Linked DNA regions of Homo sapiens. The protein of the gene in region 2 purifies or fractionates together with the protein of the main gene of each other region. This does not show direct contact. Each region holds a gene or a part of one and is shown on either strand. Other genes may lie near its edges.

Region 1 (17,132 bases), on a different chromosome or scaffold from region 2:
AAAGCATGGCTTTAGGAAGATAAATCTGAGGGCCCTGTACAAAATAAACTGGACAGGTGGAGATTCTCGACGCCATGCAATAATCCACGCATCGAATAATAAGTACCTGAACTATAGCGGTGGAAAAGAAAAGGGATGAGAAAAGGTGACAAGAATTGACAAGTCTTAGAAGAGATTCTAATGCCCTAGGCAAAAATGGCAAAGAATCAAAACATGATTCTGAAATTTCAAACTGGGTGATACAGTCAGTGGGAAATAAGGAAAAGAAGCTGATTCAGGAGAGAAGTTCAGATTCAGGTATGTACCTGAGGGTTATAAAGAGTCAGTATTGGAGTAGAGAAAAGACCACTGGACTCCATCAGAAAAATCTGAGTTCAAGTGGGAAAAAAAAAAAAAGGTTAGGATCCAACGAAAAAAACAGAATGCAAAATTATGTCTGCAGTATGATTTTAACTATTAAAAAACTAAGCATAGGAAAAGACTAAGAACAAGTACATTAACATGTTAACATCAGCTGCATACAAATGGGCTAAAGATAATTTATTTTTCTATTCTTCTTTCCTTTCTATGGTGTTTTATTTAAAAATAATATGATGCTGGGCATGGTGACTCACACCTCTAATCCCAGCACTTTGGGAGGCTGAGGTGGATGGATCACTTGAGGACAGCAGTTCAAGACCAGCTTGGCCAATATGGCAAAACCTCTTCTCTATTAAAAATACAAAAATTAGCTGGGTGCGGTGGTGCACACCTGTCATCTCAGCTACTCGGGAGGCTGAGGCACAAGAATCGCTTGAATCCAGGAGGCAGAAGTTGCAGTGAGCCAAGACTGTGCCACTGTACTCCAGCCTGGGCGACAGAAACTCTGTCTCAAAAAAACAAAATAAAATAAAATAAAAATAATATAGATACAAACACTCCCAACCATACAAAAAAAGAAAAAACCTGGACTTAACCTTTTAAAAAAATAACACACTCTTGGCCAGGTGCGGTGGCTCACGTCTGTAATGCCAGCACTTTGGAAGGCCGAGGCAGGCGAATAACAAGGTCAGGCGATCACAACCATCCTGGCTAACACAGTGAAACCCCATCTCTACTAAAAATACAAAAAATTAGCCAGGTGTGGTGGTGAGTGCCTGTAGTCCCAGCTACTCGGGAGGCTTGAGGCAGGAGAATAGCTTGAACACGGGAGGCAGAGGCTGCAGTGAGCCAACATGGTGCCACTGCACTCCAGCCTGGGCAATAGAGCAAGACTCCGTCTCAAAAACAAACAAACAAACAAAAACACGGCCAGGCACGGTGGCTCACACCTGTAAGGGAGGCCAAGGTGGGTGGATCACACAAGGTCAGGAGTTCAAGACCAGCCTGGCCAAGATGGTGAAACCCCGTCTCTACTAAAAATACAAAAATTAGCCAGACATGCTGGCGGGCACCTGTAATCCCAGCTACTAGGGAGGCTGAGGCAGATAACTGCCTAAACCCGGGAGGCGGAGGCTGCAGTGAGCCGAGATCGCGCCATTGCACTCCAGCCTGGGCAACAGAGCAAGACTCTGTCTCAAAAAACAAACAAACAAAAAAAAACCACTTTCTAGACCTTTTTCACCTATAAAAGTATAATAATTTATCTCCCAAGGTTAGTATGCAAATTAAATGAGATAAAAGCTCTTTGTAAACTGTAAATAAGGAATGCTTTAAAATAATATTTAAAAATCATATACAGCATGCAAAATTAAGGTATTATAAAAGCCTAAGACAGCTAAAGGACAAGAGATCATATACCGACATACAAATATACTACAGGGTCAGGCACAGTGGCTCACACCTGTAATCCCAGAACTTTGGGAGGCCAAGGTGCGTGGCCATCACCCGAGGTCAGGGGTTTGAGACCAGCCTGGCCAACATAGTGAAAACCTGTCTCTACTAAAAATACAAAAATTAGCCAGGTGTGGTGGTACACAACTGTAATCCCAGCTACTCAGGAGGCTGAGGCAGGAGAATCGCTTGAACCCAGGAGGCAGAGGTTGCAGTGAGCTGAGATCGTGCCATTGTACTCCAGCCTGGGAGACAGAGCAAGACTCCGTCAGACACACACACACAAAGAAATATACTATAGATTTGGGAATCTTCCACACTGAGGTAATACTAGATGAAGTAGATTCTTTCCCTAAACTTTTTACAAGTATTAGAATCTATTTTAAAAATCAAAATATTTTTCTAAAATTTCTTATGAATATTGAAGTTTTACATGTTACAGAAATGGACTCCCACATACAAAATACAGTATTTTGCTACATGTTATTCCAACTTACACATAAGACAGAAAAAGACTCCCTAGAATTTAAACTGCTAAATTATTTCATTGTTTTAAAAAGCCAAGCTCTGCAGAGATAAATCTAGCAATCAACAAATGTTCTCTCAGAAGTTACTTGCTTGAAACATAGCACAGCATTCTAAATGGTGCTTCCTCCCTTCATCCCCATTTCTGGTACTTAGGCTTAATAATAAACATCTCTACATACAGTACATACTTTATTTATTTATTTATTTTTTAGAGGCAGAGGTTTGCTCTGTGGCCCAGTGGAGTGCAGTGGTACAATCATAGCTCACTGCAACCTTCAACTCCTGTGCTCAAGTGATCCTCCTGCCTCAGCCTCCCAAGTAGCTGGGGTTACAGGCACATGCCACTATGCCTATTTTTGTTTTTTTTGCAGAGACAGGGTCTTGCTATGTTGCCCAGGCTGGTCTCAAACTACTGGGCTCAATCGATCCTTCCACCTCAGCCTCCCAAAGTGCTGGGACTACAGGCGTGAGCCACTGCACCTAGTCATGGTACTTATTTAAAAACCAGGCAGTAAGCTCCTAAAGGGCAAAAAGCATGTCTTTTACTTGTCTTTCCCATAAGAACCACCAAGCATAGTGCTAGCCCATGTTCGATGTTAATCCATACATATGTTGAAAAACACTCTAGCTAACTCATGTTGAAGATGCTCTACTAACCATTTAAGAGTTACTACTCATGTCTGGTTACACAACTTGAGTCTATCTTGAACTCTTCAAGAGGCAACCAATAAAAAAAGTTTAAAAAAAAAACCTCTCCAAATATTACATGAAAAACATTTTCATGTAAATAAGGAATGCTTTAGATTAATATGTGAAAATCATATACAGCATTGTTCCTTTAAGAAAGCAAGACTATTATCTGTGATGAGAAATCACAGTTCTAACAATGTGATGTTAAAAAGACTAATTTCTGAATAGTCCATAAGTTGAAGCATACTGCTATACTTGTTCACATTTACAACCTGTACCCAGAATGTTGTTTCTTATAGATCCTAATCCAACAATTTCATTCACTATGATTTTTCTTAGGGGGAAGAAGATTTTAAGTTTTGTTGTTTAACTTTTGAGGCAGAAAAATTTAAAGCTGACTGGTTAGGTATAAGGTTTCTTTCAAGTGAAAACAGACTAATCTCTAGGTTAATTCCAAGATAAAAGTCTTAAAATTAAACCTCTATTATGAAAGAGATTCTAAAAAGATTAAGCATGAAATGCACCCAATCCCTGCCTTATAAAAAATCGGTAAAAGCTGTATGAATAGCTTCCCACTTTTGCACATAGACCTGAGATTTAATATACATACAGTATATACATTTTGCACATGGGTATCTATATGTAGTGATTTAGAGGCAACACATCAAGGTAATTGAGTACTTTTCTCTCCTAAGTTTAAAAAAAAAAAGGTTTCTAAAGTGCTGCCTTAAGTTACCATAATTTGTGGATTAAAAGATATATTAATAATACCTAAGGGAAATTCCAGAGTACAAGCACCTGCCAGCCAAGTTGCCTGAAATTCATCAGCTGCGGAGATTAAAAGAATTCTTCACTTGTTTTTTATGTAAAACAAAGATAACATAATCAGTACCATGTAACTTCAATGTGGCATTTATAAAATGGCCAATCACTTATCATTCCTATGATTTAAAAAACCACTACCTAGTCTTAATTGCCATTAGACATCTTATAAAATGCACATAACACAGTGGATTTCTTATCTAAACATGCAACAATCAAGGGTACAGTTTGAATTTTAAGTTTTCACTTCACAAAATGAGTCACCATAGGATTCTCTGAAATAATCTCTTCTCTAAAATTATTCTGTTTATAAAGTACTCAATTTTTCTGCTTATAAAAATGTAGTTTTTTCACCATTTTTCAAGAATCTATCTAATATGTAAAAGGAAATACACACATACTTCCTTGAGAATAAATGCTTTCAATAGTTGTAACCCCAGAAGAACTTCACGTTTTGACTTCTTGTTTAAAAAAAAAAAAAGTTTTTAAACACCTACTAGAGTAGAAGTGCTTGCCTTTATATTCATGGCTCTCCTGATGGTAAAATAAAGATCAATGTAACTCTAAGCTCTAGGCTAATTAACTGCAGAGAACAGAAACAAGCAATTTGGCAAGAGCTGAGCAAAGCTCCGCTTAAAGACTACCAGTAAAATATACCAGCACTACTCCTCCCCCACCCCTTTAAGGTTTCAATTAAGATGGGGCCTAGTTTTACTCTTGCAAGGGGGACAGAAAGAGAAAGCACAGAGCTCCCACTGAGAAGTATCTTCATCAAGAACAGCTCCAGAAATACTGCCAGGAACCATTTCCTTCCCTCTCTGCAGATGCAGGTTCCTCTGATAGGCATATCTCCTCTGCTCCTGATTAACACCATATCTAAAGGAAAGTCTCATCACATACCACCCAAAGCATGGCATCAAATGAATTTTTTAAATCCAACATTAGGGTCAACAATGACGCTCTTTATGAAAAGTGTGAGCCCCAACTGCAATTCATCTTCATCTCTCGGTCTTTTGTATCACTTGCCTCATAAACTGGTTAAGAAAGAAGAAAGCTATTACAAAGCATAATCAATGTTTGAAAATAAACATTAAGTGCCCCAACTGGTGAGAAAGACTCCTCCTAAACACTTACAGAAGATGAAGCTTTAACAAGCCCTCCAGAAATCTTTAGAGCCAACACGAAAGAAGTTAAAGTGATCTCACCACTCCTACAGGATGAGGACCCAATACAGTATAAAGATAGCACAGCTCTCCACAACATCCCCTAAGAAGACACTCAATTTTTACTTTAGTATAAGATCAGCCCTTCAGCGGACATATAGGACAAGTTTTTCGGTCCAACACTTACTGTGAATAAACCAACGCATGGAGCTAAAAAAGAACCAGGGAAAAATGGATGTCTCTCTAAAAAGAGCCCAACCTAAGTAAGGAATTACAAGACATCAAAGGTTAGATAATGGACAACAGGTGCCTTTGAGGAGGAAAGAGTAACACAACACTCAGTTGCCTCCTATTTTAGGATTTCCACTCTGAAAGCAATATAACGACAATTTTTTCTGCCCAAGAAAAAGGGAAGGCCAAAATTATAGGTTTTACTATTTAATATCTATAATAGGCCCATTGCTCTTTGACTTACTTTTTTACTTTAGATTTTAAAAATCCATCTCATCTCGATATTATCTGGATATAGTACGGCCTATGGCCAGACTGCTCACTGATCAGTGAACATTAACCAAGTAGAGACTTATTATCAAGAAATGTAAAAGAAAGGCGTCTGAATACAAGCTACCTGCACATAAAAAACTCAAAATACAGTTCCAGCAGTAGGTATCACACAACTGCGTTATCAGCCAAAGCTGAAACTGTTTCTCTCACCATTCTAACAGTTGAACTTAATCTTTTACTAGATTTCAATGGCCTCGAAGAATAGTAATTCCAGATTCAGCTTCTAGGGCAGCGAATACTAGCCTGGAGTTTTGATTTTCCTAGCCAGAAGATTACCTTCATCTGGTGAAAGGAACACTGAAAAGGCACTTCAGCCTATTTAATAACCTCTTCCCTTTCTCCATTCCACAAAGACAACATCTTCCAAAAATGGAGAATCCTTTCCTTCCCTGATAGAGGCCCCCTTTCCTATTGATTCATTGGGCAGAATCACTTCTCCCCAGCATGTATGCAGAACCAGAAAACACTTCTGCTTTCACTCTTAAAGAGGGTCCCCCAACACAGATGCACCTCTTCCTTTCCTGCATTAAGCAAATGATGCTCCGATGCTTCTAGGTCTCTCCACCACTGCAAAATGCTCAGAGAAGTGGAGGGATTGAAAAGGAAGTTGCCTACTACTCTGAAGGATACTGGAAAGTCGCCTTCAAATCTAAAGTGAAGACTTGGGGGCGGGGGATGCCCCCTTCCTGAAGAGGGAATGAGGGTCCCTCCCCTAAAAAGGAGCCTCTGTTCGGGTGAAGGCGATCCCCACCCTGAAAGAGAGGCGTGTATGTGGAAAGGTGGTGGAAGGTTGTACCCTGAAGAGGAGCCTGGATTTGAAGAAATGTCCCAACTCTGAAGGGGGGTAAGTGGAGGGAGCCGTGAGTGTACGGGGAGGGGTGTGCCAGCTATCGGGGGGCCTGAGAAGGAAGGGGTTCCCACTTTGGGGGAACGAGGGCCCCGCACTGAAAGGGGCTCCGGGAGGAAAGGAGGGTCTGACACAGAGGAGAGTTGGACATGGGGGAGGGGCCCTCAGTCCACCGGAGTCCGCGGAGGGGCGGCAGCCTCGAAGGGAACATGTGCAGTGGAGCCGCTGCCACCCCGAGGGGCAGGCGGGAGGGCAGGGCCTGGGCTGTGTGCGGAAGGAAAAAAGTTCCTACCCTTCGCAGAAGACGCAGGACTCCCCAGCCGTACTCACCGAGACTGCCGGCGAAACCGTCCATCTTGCGGGGAAAGCGCCGGGCTCCGGGCTTAGAGGGGCGGGCACTTCATTCAGCGGACCGACAGAGTGGCCGACGCTGAGCCTGACCCGCTCGTTCTCTAGGTCGCCCGGCTCGGCTACCGGCTCCCGCCTCCGTCGTCCGTCCGTTCGCCCTGGGGTAGTAAGCCGCGGCCGCCCGAACCACTTCCCCGTCACGTTGAGAGCCGCGCCGCTCAGCCGCCTGCCCGGCCTCCCTCCCAGGCAGCAGCCGCGAGCGCCGCGCCGCGCCGCGCCCCGCCCCGCCCCCGCGCCCGCGCGCAGCAGTAGCCCCGCCCCGCGCACGCCGTCACACTTCCGACTCCGCCTCCCACGTGACGCCACGGAGGCGGGGTCTTGCCAGCCCCGCCCTCTCACCTTGCCTCGGCCTCGGCGTTTGTCCGCCTCGCGCCAGGCTGGTGGTTGCGCCTGCGCGGTAGGCCTGCTGAAGGCTGGGGACCACGGTTTGGAAGCTGGTTCCAAACAGGTGGGGATAAGGCATAGACTCTGGCCTGCGATACTCTGATGCATGAAGGATCCTCTCCCTATGTGGCCCCTGGGAAGCCCGCAGAGCCAAGACTGGACCCCCGTGACGGGAGATGACCACCACGTGGGTCCTACAAGGACACTAAAGAAGCAACCAAGAGGGAGAGGTTCTCCCTCTCCCCCAATAGGGTGGGGGACAAATAGGGGCGAAGCTTCTTGACTAGCTCGATACCACCACTGCCACAGCCGCAGGGCCCGGGACAGATCAGAAGCAAGGAATTTTAGTGCTGGACATGACCCAAAAGTTCATCTTGTCTAACCCTTCTTATGAAGAAAAACACAGAGCCTTAGAGAGGACAACCTGCCCAAGGTCATCGAACCTAGTAGAAGCAAAAACTCAGCCTTCCTTACTCTCCCTAGCGTTCTGTCGTCTAGGGGTGCAAAACGACCATATATGGCAGGCTATAGGATGGCCTGCTAGGGAACCATAATAAGGGTTATTTCAAATGAAGTAACACTGAGTTCTAGGCCCAACTCCGTATGACTCAAGAGTGTCAAATCACCTAATTTATTTAGGCGTCACTTTATTCATTTGCAAATTGGTTGTCTGGACATGTAACCAAAACATGTAAATATACATAGCGTTCATATTCTTCCTCCCTTCCCCAACACGATTTCCCATACTTCTAAAGACTTTCTCATGGTTTGTCAAGTCCCTCCTGGGGCTCAGTTGTGCAGATTAGAGTAAGAGAGAGAAGAGCTGTAAGGTACTGAAGAACTGAATTGATCTATACATAATAAATTGATAAATACATAATAAAAAGCTGAGTTAGGGGAAAACAGAGTCCTACTACACAGAGTTGCAGGAGAGAGGGACAAACAAGAAGGGAGACAAGAAATATGTAATGATGAGAGAGACTTAGAGGAATTAAATGATTGAAAGGATTGTTAAACCTTCTTGGGGTATACGTCTCCCTTTGTTGCCTCTTTAAAAATCTTCCCTAAAAATGTAAATTACTTTGCATTTCTTATTTGGATATAAGACCTGTTTCTGAATACCATACTATATGGAGACTGGCCATAACGCAGCCAAGATAAATTCAGGTTACAGACTAAACGGTGTCTAAAATTTCCTTCTCTTCAAACTTAAATGATTTACCCAATGTTCCTTCTGCTATGGGCATTTTCATATGCATAAGTTTCTATTAAGCCTAAGTAAATGTTTGAGAAGTTCTCAATTCTGACAGCTGTTCCTTTGTGTCTTCAGGCCACACTCTCTGCCTTAGGTCGATTAAAAGAATAAGAACTTGGCATATTGGTATACATATGTTTTATGGTCCAGACCTGGAAGTGTGTACCTCCCTTTTGTCCACATTCCACTGGCCAGAACTTGGTCACATGACTGCAAGGGAGGCTAGGAATGTAGTCTGTGTATCCAGAAGGAAAAGAGACATATTTTGGTAACAGCTCTCTGGTTTCTGCCACACTCCCCTTCGTGGCATTCATCAGAGTTAAAATTTTTCATTTGCTTGAATGATTTATTCAATAAGCATCTCATTCATTATACTGTATACTACAAGGAAAGCTGTTAAAATGTAGGAGAGTTAGTACATCCCAGCAGTTAAGAGTGCAGACTCTGGAATCATGCTGCCCAGATTCACATCCCAACTCATCATGTACTAGCTATGAAACACTGGACAAATTACCTAACCTCTCTGTGCCTCCATTTTATTGACTGCAAAATGGAGATGATAACACTTCTACTTCTTAGAGTTTTTGAGAGGATGCTATGAGGTAATATATGTAAAGCACTTAAAACAGGGCACAATATGTTATAAGTGCTCAGTAGGTATTAGCTGCTCTTATTTTGTACCTGTTTTTGCTCTCTATTATATACTTAGTGCATATTACAGAACAGCTTTTTGATAAATATTTATTGAATAATGAACAAACATAGAAGAATTCTGAAAACTAGTCAATCTGAATACATTGTTTCAACAACCAGTGCCTGAGTGTTTTAAAGCAGCCAGAATTTTTGTTTTATATTTATCAAAGTACATCTTGCAATCTAAGCCTCTAATACTACTATGATAAAATAAAATTTAACATACATCTTTCAAAAGTGAAACCATAGCTGAACATTATCAAACACACACACAAATACTAAGGTTCTAAACAGTTACGAATTACTGGAGGGTTATTTTGGTTATTCACCTTAACAAAGGATTTATCTTTAGATTATTTTCAATGTGGAGTTCCATTGCCCCTTTGAGCTCCTTAAGTATAACTTAATTCAGGCAAATGCAAAATATGTGCCGTTTTTCAGGATCCCAGTTATTGGAAAAGGCTAAATATAGCTGTATCAAATAATGAAAACTTAGAACATTCCCTTTATGGTTTTGGTTTTTGAAACAGGGTCTCACTCTGTTGCCCAGGCTGGAGTGCAGTGGCACGATCTCAGCTCACGGCAACCTCCGCTTCCCCGGGTTCAAGCAATTAGCATGCCTCAGCCTCCCAAGTAGCTGGGATTACAGTTGTGCACCACCATGCCCAGCTAATTTTTGTATTTTTAGTAGAGACAGGGTTTGGCCATGTTGCCCAGGCTGGTCTCGAACTCCTCACCTCAAGTGATTCGCCTAGCCTTGGCCTCCTGAAGTGCTGGGATTACAGGCTTCAGCCACCATGCCTGGCCAGAACATTCTCTTTATACATCGAATCTTGACTCTGCATACTTACCTTCCCCTCTATGTCAAGGTTAGTATGTTGTGGGAGGAGTTTCAGAATACTTGTGAAGATACATTGTCAAAGTCTTGACCTAACGTTTGAAGAAAAATAAGATTCCTATTCAATTTCTTTGTTTTACTCTCACTAGCTAGATGATCTTGAAAAGTAACTATAAACTGTTTTTGTCTGCTTGCTTTTCTCTCCCGCAGACATTTTAAAATAAATGCCAAGGAAAATTAAGGGTTTTTTTTAAGTATGCTGTGTCTTCAGTTCCTTTTATTTCATTATTTGAATGTTATTTAAAAAATGAAACCCTATAGTCATGGAACTATATAGATTGTATAAACCTGTAGTCCATGTAAGCACAAATTTGATAGAAAAAAATCAGAGTTAATACCTGAGTGGGGGAAAAAAGGGATTCTTCATTTTTATAATATGTTTAATGTAAGCAGTGTGTAAAAGAATTCCAAAATCTATAAGAAGCTAAATGGCAATGTTATTCTAGCTTCTAACCATAAAGAATGCCTAGGGAGAACTTCAAAATTATTGCAAGAGAAATAAAAGGAGTTTGAGAGGAGATACCCCAAAGTGTCAAAAGTAGCTGCCTCTGAGAAATGAAATTAAGTGGAAGAAGGAAAGGGTAGAGGAGAGATATGGGGGATTTCACTTTTATTTTATTTTAATCATAGAAGTATTCATTTTTTGAAAACATTAAAATGCAAAAACAAAAAATATATTTCACTGCATATTTAGACACTCATAAACTGTGTCTGTAGAGACTGGTTTAAAATATCATACTTATTTAATAACTGTTTTACCAATCTTGGCATGATGGTTATCTCTCTCGTAAGACTTTCCAGACTTGCTGACTTCAGGAAAGAATCAAGCAATTAGTAGTGCTGTAAATTCTTGGTGAGAACTTATGAGACTGAAATCTATCCTGTGGGGATCACAAGCCATACCTCACTTGGAGGACCTGCTGCATAGATGCATGAGTGAGTGAACGAATGCCTATTGAGGTTAATTTTGGCATTTCTCATGGTGCCATCCATGACCTACAGAAAGAAGACAACTAGCCTTGCCTGCAGAGCTAAGTTTTCCCAATGCTAATTCAGAATTTATGCCATGAAATGAGATTTGAACTTGTTGAGATTGTGGAACAAACTTTAAAGTTTCTTTTTATGTGTTATAGCTTTACTACATTTACTGGATGTTGCGCAAGCCTTAGAGATAATAGCTAATAATTTTCATGTGTCCATCATAAATGTAAAATTTTTCTCCATGAAGAGTTCATAACAATCCCTTACAAAATTGATATTCTGCAGGGAAATACTTTTAAATAGAAATATTAGAGTGGAAAGCAGCCAATCAAGGAAATTCAATTCTCAAAATTAATAACACAGGAAGTTCTCTACTTGCAAATAAAATATTTCCAAAAGGTCATTTGTAAGTCAGCAGTTTGAAATTAGTAATAATGCCATAATTGGTGGTTAGATTGCCACTTAGCCCCAAAAACATGTAGCATGCTGATCCTAACCTGCCTGCGTTAAACCACACTGATGACAGCCTTACTTAAGGTTTTGAACCAGACAGGTCTGAAATTGAATATTGCCTATTATAAGCATCTGTGGGTTGATGTTGCAACCTAAATACAACATATAATACCGTTTCAACTTTCAAAGTTCTGACTTATGAAGGTCCTTAAGTGGTAGGTTTCATTATCCCCATTTTTCAGACAGGGAAAATGAGCCTCAAGAGTATAAAACTATAAAATGGGAAAATCAAGTTTTGAACCCATATCCATCTACATCTGAAAATCAAACTCTTCGCTGCACCAGTTTGCCTTTTGGGCTCAATGGGATTCTGTTGTGGAGATCCTTGAACACCAGACTGAGACGCCTATCAACAATGCAGTTTTAGCAGCAAAGTGATATGATCAAAGCATTGCTTTAGGAAGATTAAACCGGGTGGACACATTGGAAGAGGCACTGGAAGTGGGGAATCCAATTAGGAGACTTGCAGTGAAGCAGTAGCTGCAGAAAGCGCCAAGAAAAAAAAAATCTTGTGAAGGAAAACATGAATTAACAACAAACAAAACCCTCGCAGAGCTGGGTGGACTGATTGCCTCAGAAGCTAAGGAAGAGGAGGGAGTAAAACAGGTTATCCAGGTTCAGCTCCCAGTGATGGAGAGAATAATGGCAGCATTATATTAAAATGGGAACTTAAAGAAATGATGTGACTGGAGAAAAGAAAATACAGTGATGAATTAACCTTTGTGGGAAGCTGAAGGGAATCAGAGGTCATCTTTGACAGCTGGGGCCCAGGCACATGACCTAGGCCAAGTGAATGCCTCAACCCAGGTCTTTTAATGGCAGGGATGAGTTGGGGGGCAGTGATACAAAAACTAGCAGTCAGAGACCATGCTTGAAGATAGTTGAGAAATTGAAGAGCAACAGTGATGGTGTGCAGAGGTAGGAAGTAGGGCAGCCCACTCCAGGGCAGCGTCCTCACTAGAGTCCTAAAGAGTAAACTTGCCCATGCTCTCTGTGCCCTACACTGCCTGGGTTTCTGCCCATTTTCTGTGCCTGGCCCTCTGATCTTCCCATCGACTGAAGGAGCTACCTGATATCCTCCCAGCGAATTTGTTTTCTGCTTGAGTCAGCCAGAGTGGGTTTCTGTTGTTTGCAATAGAGAACTCTGAGTGGTACAAGTGCTGCGTTCAGTTTTAAACAGATTGTGCTTGGCGTCATAACCAGATGTCCAGATGGAAGCCTCCAGCACACAGTTTGAAATGTGGACTGTGGTTTAGGAGCGGGTTGGGTCTGGGAATATACACGCAGGAGACTTCTCAATAGAGCCGATGGTTTAAGCTATGAGAAATCTTAGAGGAAAAAGATTTAAGGGAAAAAATGGAAATGAGCAGAATGTAGAACTTGAGGGACCTCCAATATTTAGGAGGCAAGAGAAGGTGTCAGAGAAGAAACAATAACAGCAATAGAAGGCAAATCCTGCTAGTGCCCTATCACAGAACCAAAAGGAGCCAAAAGGTTGTTTTTTTTTTTTTTTTTTTTAATGATGGAAGTTGGAAGCTGTTAAATGCTACAGAGTCCAAGGAAGATGAGAAGTGAGGAACGGATACTAGATTTAGTGATTACGAGATCACTGGTCTTTAGAGAGTTGTTTATCTTGATGGTGGAGGAAAAAATCAAGTTGCAGGGGATTAAAGACTGAAAGGGGGGTCTGAAAGTGGAAAGAAAAAAATGCAGGCTACAGTTTAAAGGAATTTGGCAGGATTTTGTCTGTTTTGTTCACTGCTGAATTCCCAGCTCCTAGAAGAGCACCTGGCACATGGTAGGTGTTCAATAAATATTTGTTAAATGAATGAATAAAGAAGATCAGAAACAGAAAATTGAGCTGAAGTGTGATGAAGAGGAATATTTTATTTTATTTTATTTTATTTTATTTTATTTTATTTTATTTTATTTGAGACAGGGTCTCACTCTGTCACCCAGAATGGAGTACAGCATTATGATCTTGGCTCACTGCAGCCTCAACCTCCTGGGCTGAAGCGATCCTCATGCCTCAGCTTTCTGAGTTGCTGGGACTACAGGTGCACACCACCACACACGGCTAATTTTTGTGTGTGTGTGTGTGTGTGTGGTTTTGTTTTGTTTTGTTTTTGGTAGAGATGGGGTTTTGCCATGTTGCCCTGGCTGGTCTTGGACTCCTGGGCTCAAGCAATCCTCCTGCCTCAGCCTTCCAAAGGGATTGGATTACAGGCATGAGCCACCGTGCCCAGCCTAAAGAGGCAAATTTGTAGAATTGAGATTACCTCAGTATGCTTGCAAACAAGGGTTACCAAGTTCTCTCTCCCATCTCCATAGGCCAAAGAACCTGATTTCCTAGGCTTTTCTTGAGTTATCTATTGGATGCTCTTTCCTCACCCATATACTATCCTCATTACTCCATTATTCAGTTTGTCTGTATTGTAGGCTAATATAATACCAATTTCCTGGATAACAGTTTCTTATTCATCATGTCTTATTCTTCTTTGAAAAGTCTATTTTTTATACTACTTCATGTTCCACACAAAAATAAGTCAGATATTCCTCATCTATGTATATTTTATCCCAAACCACAGTTGAACCTCAGTGAGCTTTTAAGGATTTGATAAAACATTCTGATTAACCAGAAACAGGTGTATCATTAGATGACATCTCAATTGCACATTTTAAAAAAATCATTAGTTTGCGGTCCTTTACAACACAAACTTTATATCCAATAACCAAACGATCAAATGCAGTATCAAAACATTGTAAAGAAGCTATATAAAGACAAAAAGTTAAAATTGCCTCTGACTTAAGTAATAATAACAATAAAACCTAAGATTTTTTTTGTTTTACTTTAAACCCTTCTGTTTCCAAGTCTATGGACTTTTACTTAGAAGTCTATGAGTAAAAAAAACAAAAACAAAAACAAAAACCATGCATTTAAAAAATAAATTTTAACTAGAAATGTAAGAAGTCATAAGGGGTTTTCAAGTGCAATGAAATACTTGGACTACAACAATTAAGATTAAAGACATGGAAGTTTCCCAACCTGAGTTTATGGTCTTTGGTGGATGTAATTAAAGCACACAGAGCCTTTACAATGGGTGTAAGAAATTGTTTCTTTATTTTGCTTGCAGACTTTAGTAAGCAATCTTCTAGTGCCTGTCATAGGTTCATCAGAGCAATCAGCTGTGACTTTAGGGTTCTTTTGGTGTTACTGTATTAATTTGCATCTAGGCAGTCTGCAATTTTGGGGAGAAAAGAAATAGGAAAAAAAATAAAAAATGCATAATTGCTTTTGTGCATATTATTCCCTTTAGTTTCTTTTAGAATAATTATATGTGCCTATACATGCAAACAGAAGGCACATGTGTGCACATACATGAGTGTGTCTCCAGATACATGGTCAAAAAGCTTTTTGTATCATTCCTCACTCTCTTCTTAGGCTAAAACTTTGCTTGGCCCAAACTGAGTGTTTGATCAAGATGTGAATGGTCTGTAATAACAGAGCATGTCTAGTTGCATAAAGCCAATGATGCTCATCATCAAAGTCCTCCCAGTCAGAATAGGGACTTTTCCTTCTTGAGTACCTGGGAGACTTGCACTTAGCTGAATGACATTTTCAGATAAGGCTTCCCTTCCATTTAAACTGTGATGATTAAAGTTTCTAGAGGATCTGTTATAAAACTAAAATGAGTATAAGGTTACCTCAGAACTGAAACCTGAATTCAATTCCAAAATGTGACTTTGTTGTTGTTGTAGAGTTGGGGTCTCGATATGTTGCCAGGGCTGGTCTCAAACCCTGGCCTCAAGCAATCTTTCCACCTCAGCATCCCAGAGTTCTGGTATTACCGGTGTGAGCCACCATGCCCAGCCATGGTGGCATTTTTGCATCAGCCCATGAGGTGAGCCATGACCCAGGTCCAGAGAGTCCTTCATGTGAAATGGGCTGTCCTTACCCAAAAGTGAGAAAAGATTCCCGTGGAAGAGCCCAAGTTCCTCCCAGGGCCAAAATTGTGGGGGAAGCATCTTTCTGTTATTGCCAGCAGTTGCTGGTCTCAGTTATCCAGTATCCTGCATGCAACCAGGCTTATCAAGTTGGCCAGACCGCAGGTCAATAAATGTAGGCAAGGCCGGGCACAGTGGCTCACGCCTGTAATCCCAGCGCTTTGGGAGGCCAAGGTGGGTGGATCACCCGAGGTCAGGAGTTCGAGACCATCTTGGCTAACACAGTGAAACCCCGTCTCTACTAAAAATACAAAAAATTAGCCAGATGTGGTGGCACGTGCCTGTAGTCCCAGCTACTTGGGAGGCTGAGGCAGGAGAATGGCTTGAACTGGGGAGGTGGAGCTTGCAGTGAGCTGAGATCGTGCCACTGCACTCCAGCCTAGGCGACAGAGCGAGACTCCATCTCAAAAACAAAAAAAAGAAAAAAAATGTAGGCTTGAAAAAGGATGTGAGCAGGCATTTCATAAAAGAAGAAATACAAATCACTAATAAGTGTATATAAGAACATTTAAAAATCAGTACATCCACACAAAAATCTCCACATATTTATAGCAGCTTTGTTCATAATTGATAAAACTTGGAAGCAACCGAGATGTCCTCCAGTAGGTAAATGAGTAAATAAGCTGTGGTGTATCCAAACAATGAAATATGCAGTGCTAAAAAGAAATGTGCTATCAAGCCATGAAGAGACTCAGAGGAAACTTAAATGCATATTACTAAGGCTACGTATTGTATAATTCCACTATATGACACTCTGGAAAAGGCAAAGCTAAGAAGACAGTAAAAATGTCAGTGGTTGCCAGAGGTAAGTGGGGAGGGAGGAATGAATAGGCACAGAGGCTTTTTAGGTCAGTGAAAATACTCTTTATGATGATATAATGGTGGATACATGTCATTACATATTTATCCAAACCCATAGAATGCACAACACTAAGAGTGAACCCTTATGTAAACTATGGACTTTGGGTGATAATGATGTGTCAACGTAGGTTCATTGATTGTAACAAATGTACCCCTCTGTTGCAGGATGTTGATAATGGGAGTCTATGGATGTGTAGGGCAGAGGGCATATGAGATATCTCTGTACTTTCCTGTCAATATTGCTGTGAACCTAAAACTGCTCTAAAAAAGTCTAAATTTGGCCGGGCACTGTGGCTCATGCCTGTAATCCCAGCACTTTGGGAGGCTGAGGCCAGTGGATCACCCGAGATCAGAAGTTCAAGACCATCCTGGACAACATGGTGAAACCCGTCTCTACTAAAAATACAAATATTATGGCCAGGCGTGTTGGCTTACGCCTGTAATCCCAGCACTTTGGGAGGCTGAGGTGGGCAGATCACGTGAGGTCAGGAGTTTGAGACCAGCCTGGCCAAAACACCCTGTCTCTACTAAAAATACAAAAATTAGCCGGGCATCGCTGTGGGTGCCTATAGTCCCAGCTACTCAGGAGGCTTGAGGCAGGAGTATCGAACTTGGGAGGCGGAGGTTGCAGTGAGCCAAGATCGTGCCACTGCACTCCAGCCTGGGTGACAGAGCGAGACTCCATCTCAAAAAAACAAAGTCTAAATT
Region 2 (11,908 bases):
TCAATTTTATCTACTTCCCTAGAACAGTGCCTGGCAAATGGTAAATGCTCAGTAACTATTTGTTGATTAAATGCGTTATAACCATCCATTGGAGTGAAAGTGAACATCTCCAAATATTTCCATAATGTGAAATGTAAAAAGCAAGTTGCAGCAGACTACATGCCTTTTTATAAAGTTTAGAAACAAGTAAAATAGGCTGGGTGTGGTGGCTCACGCCTGTAACACCAGCACTTTGGGAGGCCAAGGCAGGCAGATCACAAGGTCAGGAGATTGAGAGTATCGTGGCCAACATGGTGAAACCCTGTCTCTACTAAAATACAAAAAAAAATTAGCCAGGCATGGTGGTGCACACCTGTAGTCCCAGCTACTTGGGAGGCTGAGGCAGGGGAATCACTTGAACCTGGGAGGCAGGGGTTGCAGTGAGCCACGATTGCGCCACTGTACAGCCAGCCTGGCGAAAGAGTGAGACTCCATCTCAAAAAAAATAAATAAAAGTAAAATGAATAGTAATGTATTATTTAAGGATACATAAAGGCGATAAAGTTTTTAAGAAGAAATGATAAATATAAAATTAAACAGAATGGTTTCATCTGGGTAGGAGGCCAGAGAAGGAAGGAATTCACACGGCAAATACAGTGATATAGGTAATGCTCTAGTTCAGCAGTGTCCAGTAGATCTTTTTGCAACAATGGAAATGTTCCATATCGGTGCTGTTCAGTATAGTAGCTACCAGCTTTCTGTGGCTATTGAGCACTCCAGAGAGTGGCTTGTGTGACTGAGGAACTGAATTTTTAATTCTCTTTAAGTTTAAGCGGGCACATATGGCTAGTAACTCATATTGGATAGTGCAATTCTAGTTCTAGTGGCAAATAGACCTATGTTTATTGTTAGGCATGAAAATTTACACGTATGTTAAAATAGTCTTAGGTATATCTAAAATGCAGCATAATCTTAAAAAGCCATTTAAAACAAAAAGTAAGCTTCAGAACTCACTTTGGTAACTATAGTTCTGCTGCTTCCGTAGGATCTCAGCATGACCCAGTTAGTCCCCAGGCCAGCACAGCAGGTGATAATTAACCCTTCTTTACATTTAGCCTCAGAAAATACCAGGCATCAGAACAAGGATCCCTGAGGAGTAAGAGAAAAAAAAAAAGAAAATACCAGGCAATTTTTCTTTAACTTTGACAGATTAATCTTCTTAATTATATTTTTATTTGGCCCATATTAAAATTCAGTTTCATTTCCTGACCACACATCAGCTAGTCTTCATTAAGGTTGCTTGGAATATGCTGTATGATATGAAAGAATCAGCCATTATATTATAAAAATGGATACAGATAGTCGTCAGAGAATGTAATATTCACATTAAATTTTGAAGAATTGGCCGGGCGCAGTGGCTGACGCCTGTAATCCCAGCACTTTGGGAGGCCGAGGCGGGTGGATCACTTGAGGTCAGGAATTCAAGGCCAGCCTGGCCAACATGGTGAAACCCTGTCTTTACTGAAAATACAAAAATTAGCCAGGCATGGTGGCGGGCACCTGTAATCCCAGCTACTCAGGAGGCTGAGGCACGAGAATCACTTGAAGCCAGGAGGCGGAGGTTGCAGTGAGCCAAGATCGTGCCACTGCACTCTAGCCTGGATGACAGAATGAAACTGTGCCTCAAAAAAAAAAAATTGCTGGGTGCAGTGGCTCACGCCTGTAATCCCAGCACTTTGGGAGGCCAAGGTAGGTGGATCACCTGAGTTCGAGACCAGCCTGGCCAACATAGTGAAACCCCGCCTCTACTAAAAATACAAAACTTAGCTGGGCATGGTGGTGTGTGCCTGTAATCCCAGCTACTCGGGAGGCTGAGACAGGAGAATTGCTTGAACCTGGGAGGCAGAGGTTGCAGTGAGCCAAGATCGGGCCACTGCACTCCAGCCTGAGCAACAGAAGCTAGACTCGGTCTCAAATAAAAAAAAAAAAGTTGAAGAATTCAACATTCAGATTTTCCCCGGACAGGGAGTTAATGGTAAGTTTATCTGGCAACTTTAAGAGGAGTTTGGCTCAAATATTAAAGACCTTTTTATATAAGATAAGTGTCTATGGAGGATGCTGGAATCTGAATGTATCTCTTAAAGAAGCAGAGTAAGCATGGGTGCTAGATTTGGTGGGCTGTGGTTGGGGGGATTGTTTGGTAATGCTTTTAGAATATTGATAACCTGCTATGGATACAAGATAAACAAAGTTGGTAAATGGAAGTGAATTATCATTATGAGCATCCTGATATACAAATACAACTATACAAAATTACAAAACATAGTTTGTATGAAAACCAAAAATTTAGTCCCTAACATTTGACTTGCACTGTTGCCATTGCACTTCATGCAGCTTATAGGCACCTTTCCAGGGTAAGTAGGGTTGTCAAATGGTAAATCTGTCTTGCTGCATAGCAAAGCTGTCTATTTCTGTGCTGTATATCTGTCAGTGTTTCAGAGCTCTAGCCCGGGAGGAGGCGGCGGGGGCGGCGGTGGTGAAGAAGAGGACAGTCAGCAGGAATCTGAAACTCCTGACCCAAGTGGAGGCTTCCGAGGAACAATGGAAGCAGACCGAGGAATGGAAGGTTTAATCAGTCCCACAGAGGCCATGGGGAACAGTAATGGGGCCAGCAGCTCCTGTCCTGGCTGGCTTCGAAAGGTAATTCCTTTGGAAGAAGTAACTTGGATAAAATATGTGGCCCTTTGCAGGAACTAGAAAGAGCTGTCAGGGTCTCTCAGTTTTCCAAGTACCTAGTAAACTGTTGTGCATCCTGAATCCAGCCTTCTGATTTCTACCTGGAAAGAAATTGCCTAATCACTAATCCTTTTTTCTTTCCAAAAAGATAAAAAATGTTCTCATACCCTTGTTACTTAAGTGAATGTATTATAAGTTACTATAACCTACCTTGATGGCAGTTTTTGTAGTACATGTATATAAAGATTAAGCTTACAGATTTTATACTGTCATTTATAGAAATGGAATATTGGAGCAGTTGGAATGCCTTACAATAGGAAAATGGTTGATGAAAGTTGAGATACAGAAAGTAAAAATGTTGGATTGGGCACAGTGGCTCATGCCTATAATTCCAGCACTTTGGGAGGCTGAGGCAGGAGGATCACTTGAGCCTAGGAGCTCAAGACCAGCTTGGGCAACACAGCAAGACCTTGTCTGTACCAAAAATTTAAAAAATTAGCCGGGTGTAGTAGTGTGCACCTATAGTTCCAGCTACTCAGGAGGCTGAGGCAGGATGATCACTTGAACCTGGGAAGTCGAGGCTGAAGTGAGCCGAGCTGTGCCATGATTGTACCACTGCAATCCAGCCTGGGTGACAAAGCAAAACCCTGTTCAAAAAAAAAAAAAAGTAAGAATGTTGAAGTATATTTATTTTCATGGAAAGTTACTCACAACATATGGCTATGCAGAAGAGGATGATATATCTGTATGATCTCATTCTTTTAGGAAATATGTAACACACAAAAGAATGTCAACAAGACTATGTATTGACAGTTTTTAAAGTGGTTGTCTGTAAGTGATGGAATTGCTGGTGAATTTTATTAGTTTCCTTTGCCCATTTGTATTTTCTCATTTTCTACAGTAAATATTTATGGTTTGTGAAATTTTAAATTTTTTACCAAAAAAAAAAAAAAAAAGACCGAGCATGATGGCTCCCAGCTGTAATTCCAGCACTTTGGGAGGCCAAGGCAGGAGGATTGCTTGAGCCCAGGAGTTTGAGACCAGCCTAGACAACATAGGGAGACCCCATCTCTATAAAAATTTAAAAAAAAATAAGGCCAGGGCCAGGCATGGTGGCTCACATCTGTAATCCCAGCTCTTTGGGAGGCCAAGGCGGGAGGATCACCTGAGGTCAGGAGTTTGAGAACAGCCTGGCCAATCATGGTGAAACCCCATCTCTACTAAAAATACAAAAATTAGCCGGGCAAGGTGGCTCACGCCTGTAATCCCAGCACTTTGGGAGGCTGAGGCGGGCGGATCACAAGGTCAAGAGATCAAGACCATCCTGGCCAACATGGTGAAACCCCATCTCTATTAAAAATACAAAAATTAGCCGGGCGTTGTGGCGCACGCCTGTAGTCCCAGCTGCTCAGGAGGCTGAGGCAGGAGAATCGCTTGAACCCAGGAGGTGGAGGTTGCAGTGAGCCGAGATTGCGCCACTGCACTTTGGCCTGGTGACAGAGCGAGACTCCGTCTCAAAAAAAAAAAAAAATTAGCTGGGCATGGTGGCACGCACCTGTAATCCCAGCTACCTGGGAGGCTGAGCCAGGAGAATCACTTGAGCCCAGGAGGCGAAGGTTGCAGTGAGCCGAGATCGCACCACTGCAGTCCAGCCTGGGCGACAGAGTGAGACTCCATCTCAAAAAATAAATAGATAAATAAATAAGGCTGGGCGAGGTGGCTCACACCTGTAATCCCAGCACTTTGGGAGGCCAAGGCGGGCAGATCACTTGAGGTCAGGAGTTTGAAACCAGCCTGGCCAACATGGTGAAACTCTGTCTCTACTAAAAATACAAAAAATTAGCCAGTTGTGGTGGTACACGCTTGTAATCCCAGCTACTTGGGAGGCTGAAGTAGGAGGACCACTTGAACCTGGGAGGTGAAGGTTGCAGTGAGCCGAGATTGTGCCACTGCACTTCAGCCTGGTGACAGAGTGAGATTCTGTCTCAAAAAAATAATAATTAGCCGGGCATGGTGGCACATGCCTGTGGTCCTAGCTACTCAGGAGGCTGATGTGGAAGGATTATTTGAGTCCCAAAGGTCAGGACTACAGTGAGTCATGGTTGTGCCACTGCACTCCAGCCTGGGCAACAGAGCAAGACCCTGTTTCAAAAAAAAAAATCTGTAGGTTTAAAGCTCCCTGTCTAATAAGACTAAACTTGCTAGTGATTTGAGGAGCGTGAACAGAGGAAGCAGCATGCTGTTCTGTCTGCACCTTTAGCCTCAGCTTTCAGCAGTGTTGCAGCCAGCCTCACTGACACTTCCTTGGAGCGCCCCAGCTCACTGAATAGCCTGTGTAGAATAAGCGTGTTGGAGTGACACACCAGAAACTCCAGCCTGTGTTCTTTGAGTTTGCCTTTGCATCACTGTTTCTCTGATGAAGGGGTGGCAGTTTTTTCACAGGTAGGCTGTGATATGTTGTTAACCACAACTGTCTTGCCCACTAGAGGGTGCTGAAGTCATGAGAGAGGGAAAACTATAGCAAAAAGAAGGGAATTTGGGAGGAAGCAAATACTGCAAACAGACTAATGAGATTCTTTCTCATATACATAGGAGCTGGAAAATGCAGAATTTATCCCCATGCCTGACAGCCCATCTCCTCTCAGTGCAGCGTTTTCAGAATCTGAGAAAGATACCCTGCCCTATGAAGAGCTGCAAGGACTCAAAGTGGCCTCTGAAGCTCCTTTGGAACACAAACCCCAAGTAGAAGCCTCGGTAACTGAGCTTTTTGCCTTTGAATCACAACTAGGTAAACAGTCACTGCAAGCTCTGCCTGGTTCTTCTGGCCTCGCTCTAGCTTTTGGGTTTCAGCTGCCCTGCATCAACTCATTATACTGTCTATTCAGCAGTACTTAAAGCCTCAACCCAAGACTAAACTGAGTTGCCTCAGAAAGGTATTTACCCTTCCACATTTCTGACAGGCTAACACCTTTCTAAAGGGATTGTCTTTTCCCTCTGCCTCAGAAATACCAAAATTCAAATTCAGTTTTTCATGACACTGGCAGGGTAGGTTAGAGGCTCTAAATATAAGAAAGAAGTAATACTGGTAGTCTAGTGAGGAAGCAACACATGTACACCTAACCTTGGTAAAAATGACATTGTGGTAAATACCTCAGTAAAACTATAATCCAAGGTCATGAAACTTTTTCTATAAAAGGCTACATAATTATTTTAGACTTTTCCTATTAAAGGCCACATAGTAATTATTTTAGACCATTTTAGACAGAAATGTGTACAGCCTCTTTTGCAACTACTCAACTCTGACATTGTAGCACAAAAAGCAGCTTCAAGTAATACATAATGAATGGGCATCCTTGTGTTCCAATAAAATTGTATTTACAAAAACAGGCAGTGGGCCAGAATTGGCCTATGGGCTATTTGTTGAACCCTCCTATAAAAAAAGTACAGTAGAAAAGAGAAAAATCCAGACTAGGATCATCAGAAAGCTTCCCAGAAGAGGTAATAATACCTTTGAAACTTCAAGGTGAATGTTTTAATTTCTCTGTCAGTTCACCTTCTTAAATTGTGTTGGTGGTCCTGTTTACTGACCACCTCTCAGATCTTTTCTAAAGTGTGATTCACTGCATATCATGAATATTGACCCTTTGGGTCTGTGATCTGAAAGACTTGTTCCAAACCAAATCATGCTTTTCCCTACTTCAGCATTTTAAATGAGAAGATACCAAGGTGCTTTAAAATTTTTCACAAAGTCCTCCAAAATAGATGATTGGTCTCCCACCTTGGCCTAATGGGGACTGAGGCAGAGAGTTCACTTTCCATGTTATGTCAGTGCCCATCGCTGTTATAATCCTAGCATTTCTGTTTCTCGTACATATATTCATGTGTATATATGATTTATCTTGTTAATTTAAAAGTAAAATCCGATTGCACTTAGAGGAAGTTTGGATTGAGGAGCTATGACACCTGGGCAGAACCTCCTGCAATCTCCTTCTTGTCTCTCTAGTCACCTCGGCTGAATCCTGCAGTAACCTGTGCTGGGAAGGGAACACCACTGACTCCTCCTGCGTGTGCGTGCAGCTCTCTGCAGGTGGAGGTTGAGAGATTGCAGGGTCTGGTGTTAAAGTGTCTGGCTGAACAACAGAAGCTACAGCAAGAAAACCTCCAGATTTTTACCCAACTGCAGAAGTTGAACAAGAAATTAGAAGGAGGGCAGCAGGTGAGAGCATTAAAAGAATAATCCAATTTCTAAGCCTGTTTTGAAGAATCACAGAAACAAAACACAAAGTACTGAAATAGACTTGTTCCTTTGCAGGTCCTTACTTTTTTTTTGAGACGGAGTCTCGCTCTGTTGCCAGGCCAGAGTGCAGTGGTGCTATCTTGGCTTACTGCAACCTCCGCCTCCCGGATTCAAGCAATTCTCCTGCCTCAGCCTCCCGAGTAGCTGGGACTACAGGTGTGCACCACCATGCCCGGCTAATTTTGGTATTTTTAGTAGAGACAGGGTTTCACCGTGTTGGCCAGGATGGTCTCGATCACTTGACTTCATGATCCACCCGCCTCAGCCTCCCAAAGTGCTGGGATTACAGGTGTGAGCCACCACGCCTGGCCGATCCTTAGTTTTTAATGATACCATTTTTGTAATTATAATCCCAGAAGCCTTGGGCCTTGTTCAGGCACCTAGATTGAATCATTTTCATCACTTGCATTGCTTTTTCTTAGTGTATGTTTTTTCTTTTACAATACTTAATTACATACCTCTGAAAATAGACATTCTCCTGAACAACCACAATACTATAACCACACCTAAAAAAATTAATACTAGTATTGTCAATTCTCATCTAGTATCCAGCTGATACCTCAATTTTCCCAGTTTTCCCCCACAAAAATGTCCTTTATAACCATTTTTTATCAGACTAGAATCCAGTCAAGAATCCCACATTATATGTATGTCTCATTTCTTTTCATCTAAAACAGCTCCCTCCACCACCATCACCTTTTTTAAATTATTTTATTTTTATTTTTATTTTTATTTTTATTTTTATTTTTTGAGACAGTCTCACTCTGTTGCCCAGGCTGGAGTGCAGTGGCGTGATCTCGGCTTACTGCAACCTCCACCGCCCGGGTTCAAGTGATTCTTCTGCCTCAGCCTCCCGAGTAGCTGGGACTATAGACGCTTACCACCATGCCCAGCCAATTTTTGTATTTTTAGTAGAGATGGGATTTCACCATATTGGCCAGGCTGGTGTCAAACTCCTGACCTCGTGATCCACCTGCCTCGGCCTCCCAGAGTGCTAGGATTACAGGTGTGAGCCACTGCGCCAGGCCTTATTTATGTATTTATTTTGAGACAGGGTCTTGCATTGTCACCAAGGCTGGAGTGCAGTGGCACAAACATGGATCACTGCAGCCTTGACTTCCTAAGCTCAAGTGATTCTCTGACCTCAGCCCCCCAAGTAGCTGGAACTACAGGCATGTTCCACCATGCTCTGCTTCACCTTTTAAAAAAATACTTTTATGACATTGACTTGTTGAAGAAACCAGGGCAGTTGTTCAACAGAATGTCCCACATTCTAGATTTGTCTTGTTTTCTCAGGGTGTTGTCTAACTTGTTTTTCTGTCACCCTGTCTTTTCTGAAAACTGGAAGTTTAACCTAAGGCTTGATTAGATTCACATTAAACATTTTTAGTGAAAATACTTCAAAGGTGATGCTGCTTGCATTATTTTTCGAGAGCCATGCTATTGTTTTATATAGAGGGAAGTAGAAGCAGAGAAATAGGGTTAGGCCCTTGGCTTTGCCATTTGCCAGCTGTAGGTGTTTGGGCTACTTTGTTTTCTCTGAGCCCTGGTTTCTCACCTGAAAGAAAATAATAGACACCTTGTATGGTTCTTTGGAGGATTAAATGAACTAATGTTTATGAAATTACTTTAGAAAATAATATACAGGCTGAGCACGGTGGCTCACACCTGTAATCCCAGCACTTTGGGAGATTGCTTGAGCCCAGGAGTTCAAGACCAGCCTGGGCAACCTGGTGAAACCCCATCTCTACCAAAAATAAAAACTAACTGGGCATGATGGCACACGCCTATAGTCCCAGTTATTCAGGAGGCTGAGGTGGGAAGATCACCTGAATCTGGGGAGGTCAAGGCTGCAGTGATCCGTGATCACACCACTGCACTTCGGCGTAAGCAACAGAGCAAGACCCTGTCTCAAAAACACACACACACACAAGGTAAGATTGGCAGCTATAGCAGGGAGAAGATTGTTTTGCCCAGGACTTTTTCCATTTTAAAACTAAGAGTTCTGCATCCCAGGAAACCCCGCAGTCCTGGACAAACCTGGATAGTTGGTCACCCTACCTGCAGTAAATATAAAGGTATGGACTGTATCTAAAATAGTGCCATGAGCGTCTCACAAGATCGTGGCTACAAATCCTTAGCCACGCCTTAGCCAATGCCTTAGAAGTTGGCATTGAAAATATAGTACTGAACTACTTCTGTGACTAGGTGGCACTGTTGCTAATGTGGAACCGTGTTTTATCCGGACAGGTGGGGATGCATTCCAAAGGAACTCAGACAGCAAAGGAAGAGATGGAAATGGATCCAAAGCCTGACTTAGATTCAGATTCCTGGTGCCTCCTGGGAACAGACTCCTGTAGACCCAGCCTCTAGTCTCCTGAGCCTGTAGAGCCCCCAGGAGACTGGGACCCAAAGAACTTCACAGCACACTTACCGAATGCAGAGAGCAGCTTTCCTGGCTTTGTTCACTTGCAGAAAAGGAGCGCAAGGCAGAGGCTCTGAAGCACTTTCCTTGTACATTTGGAGAGTGGCATTGCCTTTTAGATAGGATCTAGGAGTGATTTTATTGTTTTGGAGAATGGAAGGGCCCCCATGGCCCTGGCTTTGTCATCAGTGACTGCCATAGCAACAGCAGCTCTGTACCTCATCTGTTGATCCCACCTTTGAAGAGGAGACACAGTGCTCACCTTAATTGCGCTGGTAGCAGCTTATATCCCATGTATCATTTTCACCATTGATTGGAAGCTGCCTTGGGAATTCAGTACCAGGCATTACCCCTCTGGGTGGGAGAGGGAGAAGTGTAAAGTTGGAGTGGGCTGGAATCAGGTGTGGCCCGCCCAGTGTCCTCTGCAGAGTGGTGAAGTAGTCTGGCCCTCTTGGGAGCCCTGAGTCCAGGAAAATATGTCTGATGGAGTCAATCTAGGGCTTGTTTCGAAAAAGTTCAGTTACTCTGTGCAGCTAAATGCTTTAGGAGGAAAGGTAGGCTTAGGTTGCTTTTCCTCTGAGGGTTGATTGAAATTTCTTCAGTGAGGAATAGAGAAAGGGCAGGACCCTCCTCATCACACAGCTGGTGTTTCAGGCTGTGACCAATGCAGGGTGGGATTTCCTAACTGTGGATGAGGGGATGAGGTGTCTCTGAGGGATGAGGTGTCTCAGAGAATTGAGTCCATGGGGCAGTCAGAATAGCCTTAAGAGAAAATCATGAAGGAGAAGAGGTCCTCCTTTAGCTGCCTCTACTTGGTATCTTAGAGAGGGCTTAGAGGGCTCTCAGTCTTCTGCCCATGAAAAGACTTCTTTGAGCCTCTGCCTTCATGGCTCTTAGGGTTCTGATCTTGATATCAGCAGCCCCAACCACTTTCTTTCTGAATGTCTAGTCAGTATTTTTCCCCTTTTGGTGTTTTATGAAGCCATGTGGTAACGAATGAATCTGTATCATTTTTCCTACCTGAGTGGCCCAAAGCCAGCACCAAACCCTGGGAGTCCCTGAAGCCTAACAGAACAGGTAGAACTTGCAAAAGGAATTTGGCTGAGAGCTCACTTCTAATCCTGTACTCACTGTGTCTTTGTAGATAGAAACAAGCTAGCTTTACCAAAGAGAAATAGTGTCATAGAAGAACAAAACTTCATATAGAAAGTTCTAGGCAAGTATTTGATGGTTTCCTTAAGGATGTGAGCTTTGTATTTCCACCTAGCCTTGTAAAATGTTCCTGTGGTATTTTGTGTCACACATCCTACCTTTGATGAGTCTCACATCCCACCTTCCTATAAACAGCTAAATTAATTTTGTTTCATCTTCCCCAGACCAAAATGTTTGATAATCTTATCAACATTGTGGGAGGTCTTGTGCAATGGAAATTTTGCCATTTCTCCAAAACTGGTGGCATAAAGGCTGATGCTTGGGGAGAACCCCATTGCTCGGGACAGGCAACTCTGTTCAATGGGATCTTCTTTGGTTTGATGTTCCCATTGTTTTCTCAGTTCTGGGAAGCCTAGTACATTAGTACTAATGTAATCACTGAAACCTTTTCTTGAAATAAGGGAAGCAGCCAAACTTTGATTAAAGTTGCAAGTTCTGGGGACTTGCGGGGGTTGTCATAAACTGTAACAGTGGGTTTTGGTTCAGCATGTAAATGCAACTTTGATTTTCTTGAGGACCGATTGACCTGTCATGTCCCTGTATCCTCATGCTCATCATCTCAGCAGGCCTGAGAGGCTGGGTCAGTTTGGGTGTTCATCATGAGGATTGCTTCTGCCATGGAGCTGATGGACATGGGCAGGTTGCTGAGAAGGTGGGGTGAAAGTGAGTGCCGGGGGTGGGTGAGTGCCCTGGTCTTGTTCATAGGGGAGCCTTTCCCTAGCAGTGGAACGCTGTGGTCATTTTCTCTAGCATATTCCCTTGGGAAGTCTAGATTTGCTATTAATCTGGCTGAGAATCTAAGTTCTGTGCCTTAGAGACAGTTTGCACTTTCCCATATTGTGCCTGGGACAGCCATATGATTTTTTTTCCCACCAAACAAGTATGCAAACAGAAACCAGTTCAAAGGGGGATGGAGTAAAAGATGAGGCAGTAGAAATGCCTTTGAATGGTTTTCTGTAGCTAATTCTCTTTAAATTTTGTCCTGCTTTTTTTCTTTATGCAGTGCTAGGTGTTTTAAGTTTTCTAGTAGTATTGCTTTTGAGTTACAGTATAACCTGAGTTACTCCTCTGCTCTAACATTGTTGCAGAAGAACTAGTTTATTGTTAGCCAGGTTGCTTGAAAGGTTGAGAGTGGAGTGGTTTGGCATTTCTGTTTTAAATAAACATTTAAGCTCTTAATCAGTACTGTGCTTCAGTAAGCCTGTGCATGGACCTTAGTCTCTGGGGATAAAACATCCAGATTCTAAGCCTCCGTGAAT

Evidence for each region.
Region 1: the proteins of NEK9 (region 2) and EML4 purify together in Homo sapiens (affinity purification with western blotting; 2 studies listed by BioGRID and IntAct, with this or other methods). This does not show direct contact.

What each region holds. Positions count from the first base shown.
Region 1 is NC_000002.12:42,159,261-42,176,392, reverse strand, and holds the start of EML4 (echinoderm microtubule-associated protein-like 4), read right to left. Parts: upstream 7,041-17,132; 5' UTR 6,782-7,040; coding exon 6,757-6,781; intron 6,424-6,756; exon of another isoform or gene 6,162-6,423; intron 1-6,161. UniProt on the Homo sapiens protein: Essential for the formation and stability of microtubules (MTs). Required for the organization of the mitotic spindle and for the proper attachment of kinetochores to MTs. Promotes the recruitment of NUDC to the mitotic spindle for mitotic progression.
Region 2 is NC_000014.9:75,082,041-75,093,948, reverse strand, and holds part of NEK9 (serine/threonine-protein kinase Nek9), read left to right. Parts: intron 1-2,470; coding exon 2,471-2,679; intron 2,680-5,307; coding exon 5,308-5,469; intron 5,470-6,718; coding exon 6,719-6,931; intron 6,932-9,262; coding exon 9,263-9,385; 3' UTR 9,386-11,908.